2 separate regions of the Homo sapiens genome follow, and region 1 is linked to region 2. The links come from fine-mapping of genetic effects on gene expression. A gene starts in region 2. The other region holds a variant in brackets. All regions are shown on one strand. Distances are between the middles of the regions.

Region 1 (4,376 bases), 24 kb after region 2:
CCCCAAGTCCAGCACCTTGATTTTATATTCAGGAAACCTGGGTCCCAAGAGGGTGAAGGCTGGTTCAGAGGAAAGCCAGGAAGGCAAGCCCAGTTTCCTAAGTTCTGAAGGGGCTTTGGGGGGCATCTAGGAGACTCAGAGCCCTGCAGGGCCTGCAAGGTAGTCATAGGGGGGAGTATTGTCAATTTCTTTTAAAAAACCTAATGGAAACTCTACATTTACCATGATACTGGATGATACTGACACACAAGCCAAATAACATAGAGGGGTCTGTGCCCTCTATGTGGAAAGCGAGTGACTTGCTGTGTCTGCTCTTCTCTCAGCGTTCAGTAGCCCTGGTTGTTGATTACAGTCACTGCTGAAAATGGAGAAACATTTTATTTAATACTATGCCTGGGTCTCACACCTATAATCCTAGCACTTTGGGAGGCCCAGGCAGGAGAATCACTTGAACCCAGGAGTTTAAGACCAGCCTGGGCAACATAGTGAGACTCTTGTCTCTACAGATTTTTATTTTTATTTTTTTTAATTAGGCCGGGTATGTGGCTCACACCCGTAATCCCAGCACTTTGGGAGGCCGAGGTGGGCAGATCGCTTGAGCCCAGGAGTTTGAGACCAGCCTGGGCAACATGGTGAAACTCCGTCTCTACAAAAAATACAAAAATTAGCCGGTTGTGGTGGCAAGCAACTATAGTCCCAGCTACTCAGGAGGCTGAGGCAGGAGGATCGCTTGAGCCGAGGAGTTCGAGGCTGCAGTGAGCTATGATCGATCGCACCACTGCAATCGAGCCTGGGTGACAGAGCGAGACCCTGTCTCAAAAATAATAATAAAAATTAAAAATAAATTTAAAAATGCAAAATATATACTATGTTGCGTAGATAAAATGGGAAACATAATAGAAGTGGTCCTTCATGGGGGTGAAGTTCAGAGTTGCTGAGCATTTGGCAGATGAGTAAAGGGTACCCAGAAAATGGGAAGTGATCCCAGGTTACAGATGGAGCCAGCACCTGGCACCCAGTCTATTGGCCATCCCCTGCAATGTGACTCCGAAGTGATCATACTTGAAAAGTCAACGAGACAATAGGGTACCCTCATAAAAACTTTAGGTCTAGATTTATTTTCCTTAAGGAAGTCACACTTTCAGTATTTGCTACAAGCAAACTGAAGCCATTGTTTGAGTCAGTGATGATTTATATAGCAGTCTGGTGATTGCCTTGTAAACCTTTTGGAAAATTCCTTTGGTATCCCTGGTTTGGGTTTTGTTACTAAACAAAGCAACACAGGCCATGGGGGAAATTATCTGGCATCTGTCTAAAATTAAAAGACCTTTTTGGTGTTTATTACATTGTAAAGATATCAAAGTCTTGTCCTTAAGATAAAAGAAGGTCAAGGAGGCCTTGCATTTCTGGAAAGTGCCAGAGATCCTTAGTCCAAAATCAAAATCACCACGAACTTCTTGCTAAGCTCTGGGGGCCTCCCACTCAGGCATCTGCCCAGGCCTTTCGGAACTTGGTTCTGTTGTCAGGATGCACATATGCAGGCCAGATGTGCACTGCTGGTGAACCCTTCATATCAGCAGAATGTGTTTTAATGCTGCCGAAAGCGTGGCGCCTGGGGGCCACCTCAAGGCCTGTTTGTCTGTTGCTTGATGCAGTCTGCGCCAGGACCCTCCCCTTCCCTGTGGTGCTGCGACCCTTATAATGAGCCTTCTTGCTTTACTCATAGGTGGGAAACTACCTCCGTATGTTCCGAGGTTCTCTGTACAAGAGATACCCCTCACTCTGGAGGCGACTAGCCACTGTGGAAGAGAGGAAGAAAATAGTTGCATCGTCACATGGTAAAAAAACAAAACCTAACACTAAGGGTGCGTCTTCACGAGGGTTTGTAAACCTGTTTCAAAACCACTCGCTTATGTCATGAAGATAAAACGTTTTCACTCCAGAGTGTCTTCACTGCAGCCTTGGCCTTAGTCGGGCAGGGAGCATCCCGGGGTGGGCCGCCCTGTGAGCACTCCAGGCAAGGAAGTGGCTCCAGGGAGCCATTGGTGGTCCACTGTCAGTTATTTCCAGCAGGGCCATTGGGTATGTGAGCGGGCCGGGGCCAGGACACTAGCAGGTGCTGTGAAGACATGTTGGTCTCAAAACGTTTTAGGAATGCTGCGATGCTCTGCCATCTGTCGTGGGTGTGTCGCCATAATCATCTTCCATGCAGCCCAAGTGGCGGGTGGTGGTCCCAGCTCCCACTCCCCTCTGGGGCTTTCACTGCTTGCTTCCTGGAGCACATCCATCCCATAGCACTTCATCCTGGCAGCCAGTGTGCTAGAGCCCATGTGCATGTCCCTGCTCCTGGTGGCCTGCGTGTGCCTGGGGCTTGCTAGGTACACTAGTGAAACTAGTGGGCTTTGGGTCACGGCAGCTCTGTGCAGGGTGAAAGGGTGCTCTTCAGACACTCTGGGGGCTCTGTGGGAGACACTCCCATGGAGACATTTGGGTGTGGACACAGCATGTCCTTGGGCAGGTGGCAAAACTGCTTCCCACGTGGCAATGGCGCCTTGTAGAGAGCTGCCCTGGG[C/T]CTGGGTGTGTCTGTGAGCATGTGCGCGATGCTTCGTAGTCTGCCCTGTTTGTTTGTGTCTGTAGGTGCTGCTGTGGTTTTGTCCACTGCGGGAAAGTAGTGGTTCTTTTAATGCAGGAGCCGGAGCTTCTTTTTGATCTGCTGCTATGACATTTCCACTCACTTGCTTAAAACAGTTTCCTTTTTGTTCCCCCTCCTCCCCTAGCAGAGCATCAGTCGCTAACACAGTGAGTCCCCAGCTTTGCTTCCCCCTCCGCAAGTCCCTGGGCTAAGTCTTGGGAGATACCTTCCCCATAAGCGATTGATTTCTCCAGGAGAAGCCAGACTGGGCCCACAGACAGGTAGCTCTTGACGGAGATTCCCCGGAAGAGCTAGGGGTCGAGCTGCCTAGAATCTGTCCTGCTTCCCAGGCAGCACGTGTGGACCGGCTCGGGGATAGAAATTCGTGTTTGGTGTGAAGCAGCTCTTTCCAACTCTCTGGGCTCTTGTTTTAAAAGAAAAGTATTCTTCATCTTCCATTCCATCTCCCCACCTTGCATCGTGTTGTGGATTGTGGTGGTGTCAGACCTCTTCCCACTGGGGTGTTACTCTGGGAGCTTTCTTTTCCCCTGAGTGAGGACCAAGAGAATATGTTCTGGAGTCGAGTGTCCCCGCTGGTCGTGCTGTATTGTAGTTGCTGGTGCTGCCCTGAGCACTTCCCTCTGCCCCGAGCCAGTGCTCCTGGGGCAGATTAGTCCAAATCAGTCCCATTGGAGGCTCTACCCAGCAGGACTTGTAAGTAAAGCACTCAGTCCAGATTGCCCTTTTGGAAGAGGCCAGCATTCAGCAGTAGTAAGTTTGACACCTTGCTTTTCCCACCTCCCGCATGCGAGGACCTTGATGTGCTGCATCCACTTGGCTGGCTGCTGTGTGCCACCGCCACCAGCAGAGTGACCCAGTGATGTTTGTCTGTTACAGATCACGGATACACGACTCTAGCCACCAGTGTGACCCTGTTAAAAGCCTCGGAAGTGGAAGAGATTCTGGATGGCAACGATGAGAAGTACAAGGCTGTGTCCATCAGCACAGAGCCCCCCACCTACCTCAGGTAATGCGTTCCTGGCCAGGGCATCTCTGGGGACACCTGTGGGGTCTTTTCTGAGACTCAAGAACTGGTTGGGTTGAAGTTAAATTGAAACACTTTTTTTTTTTTTTTTTGAGATGGAATCTTGTTCTTGTCGCCCAGGCTGGAGTGCAGTGGCACGATCTTGGCTCACTGCAACCTCTGCCTCCCAGGTTCAAGCGATTCTCCTGCCTCAACCTCCCAAGTAGCTGGGATTACAGGTGCCTGCCACTATACCTGGCTAGTTTTTTTTTCTTTGAGACAGAGTTTCACTCTTGTTGCCCAGGATGGAGTGCAATGGCGTGATCTCAGCTCACTGCAACTTCTGCCTACTGGGTTCAAGTGATTCTCCTGCCTCAGCCTCCCAGATAGCTGGGATTACAGGCATGCGCCACCACGCCCAGCTAATTTTGTATTTTTGGTAGAGACGAGTCTCTCCATGTTGGTCAGGCTGGTCTCGAAACCCCACCTCAGGTGATCCGCCCGCCTTGGCATCCCAGAGTGCTGGGATTACAGGCGTGAGCCACCGCGCCCGGTCCTGATTTTTGTATTGAAACACTTTTTAACAGTTCCCTCTGTTTTTATACATTTTCTTAGCCAGGTTTCTAAGTTTCTTCTATATCATTGGAATTTCTAAGAAACGTAAGCCAAGTCCTGGATTCCGGAGAACAGTTACAAATGCTTGGAAAGTGGGACTCGTGG
Region 2 (4,376 bases):
CTGACCCCACCTCATCAGCCAGGGAGCTCCCTGAAGACAGGCCATCGAGAGAGGCACACAACAGGCTGTGGTCTAAAATAAACTTTTAATTGCACATTTGTGTCTTGGGTTATCTGTGGGGTGAGAAACCTCCTCACTTCCAATCCCAGCTATCTGGGTACAATCTGGTGTTGTGGTCTGGCTGTCGGCGAGGGGTAGAGGTGGGTGCAGGACTGGCCCCCGAGTCTGCACCGACCTCTTCAGGGCAGGGAGCTCAGACCTGGGAAGGGAGGGGCAGCACAGGCTGGTGGTCAGCCTGCAGGTGCAAGAGGAGGGTTGGCCTCTCCCCCTCCCCGCCTGAGTCGGGGTCCACTCACTCACCATGGTAGTACTTGCACTGCTTCAGGGCCTCGCTGAAGCCCTCACACAGGGACAGGTCACTCTGAGTGGTGGAACAGTCCAGGAACTGCCTGATCTCGTAGGCGCAGGGCCCCATCTGCAGGGGCTGGGGGGCAGCGGGGGTGGGGGCCTGGGGGTACAGTGCAAGAGGCTGCAGGATCAGCTTGGAGTTGGCACCTGGAGGTGCGTTTCAAACCTGGGGCCACCTGCCCCTCCCCACATCCCCAGCCTGGGTGTCCCAAGGGTCCTAGGCAGGCTGAGTGATCCAGCAGCAGAGGCGGCTACAGACAGCATGTTTCTGCTGCCTTTTTTTTTTTTTTTTTTTGAGACAGAGTCTCACTCTGTCACCTAGAGTGGAGTGCAGCGGCGCAGTCTCGGCTCACTGCAACCTCCGCCTCCCGGGTTCAAGTGGTTGTCCTGCCTTGGCCTCCCAAGTAGCTGGGGCTACAGGCGCCCGCCACCATGCCCAACAAATTTTTTGTATTTTTAGTAGAGAGGGGGTTTCACTATGTTGGCCAGGCTGGTATCGAACTCCTGAACTCATGATCCACCCGCCTTGGCCTCCCAAAGTGCTGGGATTACAGGCATGAGCCACTGCGCCTGGCCTCTGCTGCCTTCTAATGGGCACTTTGGGCGGGTGCAGGAGAGGGAGGAGAAGGCTCTAGGAAAGCCCAGTACTCTGCCTGTACTCTCAGAGTATGAGCCCCACCCCCACAAGTTCTAGCACCTTCCTGGCTCAGCTACACTAATCCTCATGACCCCTGACCTAGCCACAAAGCCACATTTGGCTTACGGCGGTGGGGTTCCTAGCAGGGGAAAGGTCATCAGGGAAGTGGCTCCCCTTCGCCCTTGCGCCCAGCGGCCACAGTGCCCAGACCTGGGTGTGGGGAGAACAGGGGCTCAGGAAATCCAACATCCCTCCCCTCTGCTAGGGTGAGGTGACCTTGGGCGAGTCTCTGAGCCCTCAGGGCCTGGGTTTCCCATCTTTAAAGGGCTGGTTGGTGTCTCTCCCTGGGAGCTTAGGGACCCTGGCCTCAAGGGAGAGGCCGGGAAGCCTGCCTCTAAGTGACAGTGAACTCAAGACCAGTGGACTAGGACCCTTCCCGGGCAGAGTCCTGGGCTGAAGCAATGGTGAATACACGCGGACACTCCTCACTGGACACTTGGGCAGCTCCCTGTGTGGCCTCGAGATAATCCTGCCTCAGTTTCTCTTGGACTCGCTGCTCACCTGCTGGACAGCAGGCTGGGAGGGCTCCGAGCTCCCCCCGCTGAAGGCTCCGGTCAGGGCGCTGCCCATGACGTGTCCCACAGCCGAGCCCACGGCTACCCCTGCGGCCGTGGTCGCCATCTGAGCCATGAGCCCCGGCTGGCCCGAAGGGGCGGGGGCTGGGGCGGCTGCCGAGGGCGGTGGGTGCGCGGGCGGGTGGGCAGAGGGCGCGGCTGGGCGGCTGCGGGGGTGGGAGGAAGCAGGGTTAATCCTGGCCAGACCCCAGGCTGGAGGGCTGCAGCTCCTGGAAACGACCCCCGGAGAGATGGACGACCCACGTCTCCACACGTGGGTGCTGCACCCCCACCCCTCCCCCCGCCAAGATGGCGCAGCAGCAGCCAAGGTCACTCTGCGGACGCCCTTAGGGGAGTGCCCACACTTCCCTAACCCCCTCCCCACAGGGCCCTTGTCCCCCTCACACCTGGCTGGCCGGGAGGCCGCGCTGCGGCTTCCCCGAGGCATGGTGGCGGCGGTGGGACCCGGGCGACCTTAGAGACGGCGGCAGCGGTGCTGTCGCGGGGACAAATGCCGCAGCGCTTGTCACAGCCGGCGCAAAAAAGGCGGGGCCCCGGGCGGGGCCTCAGGAACACGCCCCCAGCGGGAGGCGGCACTGCCCCCAACCCTATCCCCCTTCTCCCGTCCTCCGGACATCTCCCTTCCAGCAGCTCCGGGTCTCGGCTGGAAATGGGACCCTGCTCCCTCCCTGCGCCTGGCAGGCTGTGCGGGTTCTGGGGACAGGGGCCAGTGTCGCAAAGCGCCGAGGGCTTAAGGAGGGCGACAGTGCCTTCTGTTAGGACCACCGCAGAGGGCAGGGAGCGGAGTTGGGGGTTGTTGCGAGCCCTGGAGGGGAGAGGAGACGGGGAGGCGACGGGATGGGGCCAGCTGGGAAGGGGACGCGAGGCTCCAGGCTGGACTCCGCTCTCTGCCCCCTCCCGGACTCGGCTGTCTGTCCCCTCCCTCCAGACAGGGTCTGCTGACCACCGCGTGGCCTGGGAGTCTCCGGTGGCCTAGGGAAGTGAAGCGCGGCCCTGGGGAAGGCCTGGAGCAACCCATCCCCAGAACTCCCACGAGGGGGCGTCCCAACCCGTCTTCGACTGTTGGCCAAAATGCGCTGCCAATGCTGGCAGCCTTACGCAGTGCCCGCGGGGGATATGAGGCCCCCCGCGCGGCCCTGAACCCCACCGGATTCCCCGGGCCGGCCCGACCGCCCCCACCTAGTCCCTGGCCCCGCGAGTGCAACCCCCGACACTAACGGCCTTTACGCGACATCCGAGCAGCGTGTCTATCCCAAAGGCCTAGGAGCATTTGCCCGGCTCGGTCAAATCTAGCGCAAGTTTGAAGCCTGCGGCCTCGCAATTTTAGCAGCTTCGTTCCAGGCCAGGTGAGCTGGAGCGCGGATTTAGAATGCTTTCCTGCTCTTCGAGAACTTGAGGTTTTAATTTTACTTTTTACTTTTTTTTTTTTGACACGGAGCCTTGCTCTGTCGCCCAGGTTGGAGTGCAGTGGCGATCTCGGCTCACTGCAACCTCCACCTCCCGGATTCAAGCAATTCTCCTGCCTCAGCCTCCTGAGTAGCTGGGACTACAGGCTCGTGCCACCACACCTGGCTAATTTTTGTATTTTTAGTAGAGACGGGGTTTCACCATGTTGGCCAAACTGGTCTCCAACTCCTGAGCTCATGATCCTCCTACCTCAGCCTCCCAAAGTGCTGGGATTACAAGCATGAGCCATCGCGCCCGGCTGAGCTTGAGGTTTTTATGGTCTTTTCTGGGTGACTTTGCAGTGGTCATATTATTACTCCTAGGTGGGGGAAGGTAGGGACTGTCCCTCATCACTGCTGTGCCTGCAGAGGACTCCTGACACCGGGATTGTCGGCAGGGTGCAACCAAGAGCAAAAGCACCCAGAAGTGGGGGTGTGGGTCACCAAGTAAGAGAGGAGGCCCCTCCATAAGGAAGGAGCAGGTCAAGGGGCAAGGGGAGTGGTGGCTGGGGCGTTTGGCCCTGCCTGGCATGCTCAATTCTGTGTGTGCACAGCTGTCCCCAGCCATGCATGCTCTCCATGGAAGTCAGGTGCAGCCCTGTGTTCTCTCACACTGCAGTCCTTTCAGCCAGCCTGTGAACAGGGCCCTTCCCCGCCCTGTCTTCAGTTTCTCCTCTCTGAAGGGGGGTGACCACCCACCTTGAGGGTGGCCTCCCAGTGAGGTGAGCACACCAAGGGTGGGCCATTCTTTCCTGGCAGACTCACCAGGCCTGGTCCAGCCGCTACTCCCTTGTTCATGCAGTCCATGCCACCTGGTTCCTGTTTGCCACACCAAACAAACTGAACACTTCTCATGGTGGTCCCCGGGCCTAAACTGCAGAGAGTTGTTACTTCAGCTCCCATGGCTGATGGACTGCAGGTTCCACAAAGCATGGCCTTGCACCTCGGAGGCACCCAAGACCACTTAAGTGGGTTACACAAATGAAAATGAGGCTGAAAGGATGACACTGAAGCAGGCATTGAAATGCCAACTTTTTTTTTTTTTTTTTTTTGAAACGGAGTCTTGCTCTGTCGCTCAGGCTGGAGTGCAGTGGTATGATCTCCACTCACTGCAACTTCTGCCTCCTGGGTTCAAGCGATTCTCTTGCCTCAGCCTCCCGAGTATCTGGGACCACAGGCACATGCCACCATGCCCCGCTAATTGTTTGTTTTTTGTTGTTTTTTTGTTTTTGTTTTTGTTTTTTTAAACAG

What was found. PIP is the estimated chance that this variant, and not a neighbour inherited with it, causes the effect. A credible set is the group of variants that fine-mapping cannot tell apart.
Region 1: its variant is the best candidate, but not a certain one, in a credible set for the expression of CHCHD10 in monocytes (BLUEPRINT, PIP 0.90).

Annotation. Positions count from the first base shown.
Region 1 is chr22:23,790,030-23,794,405 of GRCh38, forward strand. It overlaps SMARCB1 (SWI/SNF related BAF chromatin remodeling complex subunit B1), which reads left to right. Exons shown (of 9, transcript NM_003073.5): 2 at 1,727-1,865; 3 at 3,530-3,659. Among named protein-coding and RNA genes, the nearest start is that of SMARCB1, 5.3 kb to the left of the region's middle. RefSeq lists an enhancer at 2,289-2,789. The variant C/T (reference allele first, on the strand shown) is at 2,573.
Region 2 is chr22:23,765,768-23,770,143 of GRCh38, forward strand. CHCHD10 (coiled-coil-helix-coiled-coil-helix domain containing 10) reads right to left here and starts at 2,205. Exons shown (of 4, transcript NM_213720.3): 1 at 2,067-2,205; 2 at 1,607-1,826; 3 at 361-508; 4 at 67-259. The coding sequence starts at 2,107. The coding sequence ends at 240. It overlaps LOC107985577 (a long non-coding RNA gene), which reads left to right and starts at 2,459. Exons shown (of 3, transcript XR_007068022.1): 1 at 2,459-3,026. C22orf15 (chromosome 22 open reading frame 15) reads left to right here. Exons shown (of 6, transcript NM_182520.3): 6 at 1-96. RefSeq lists enhancers at 1-542, 543-1,342.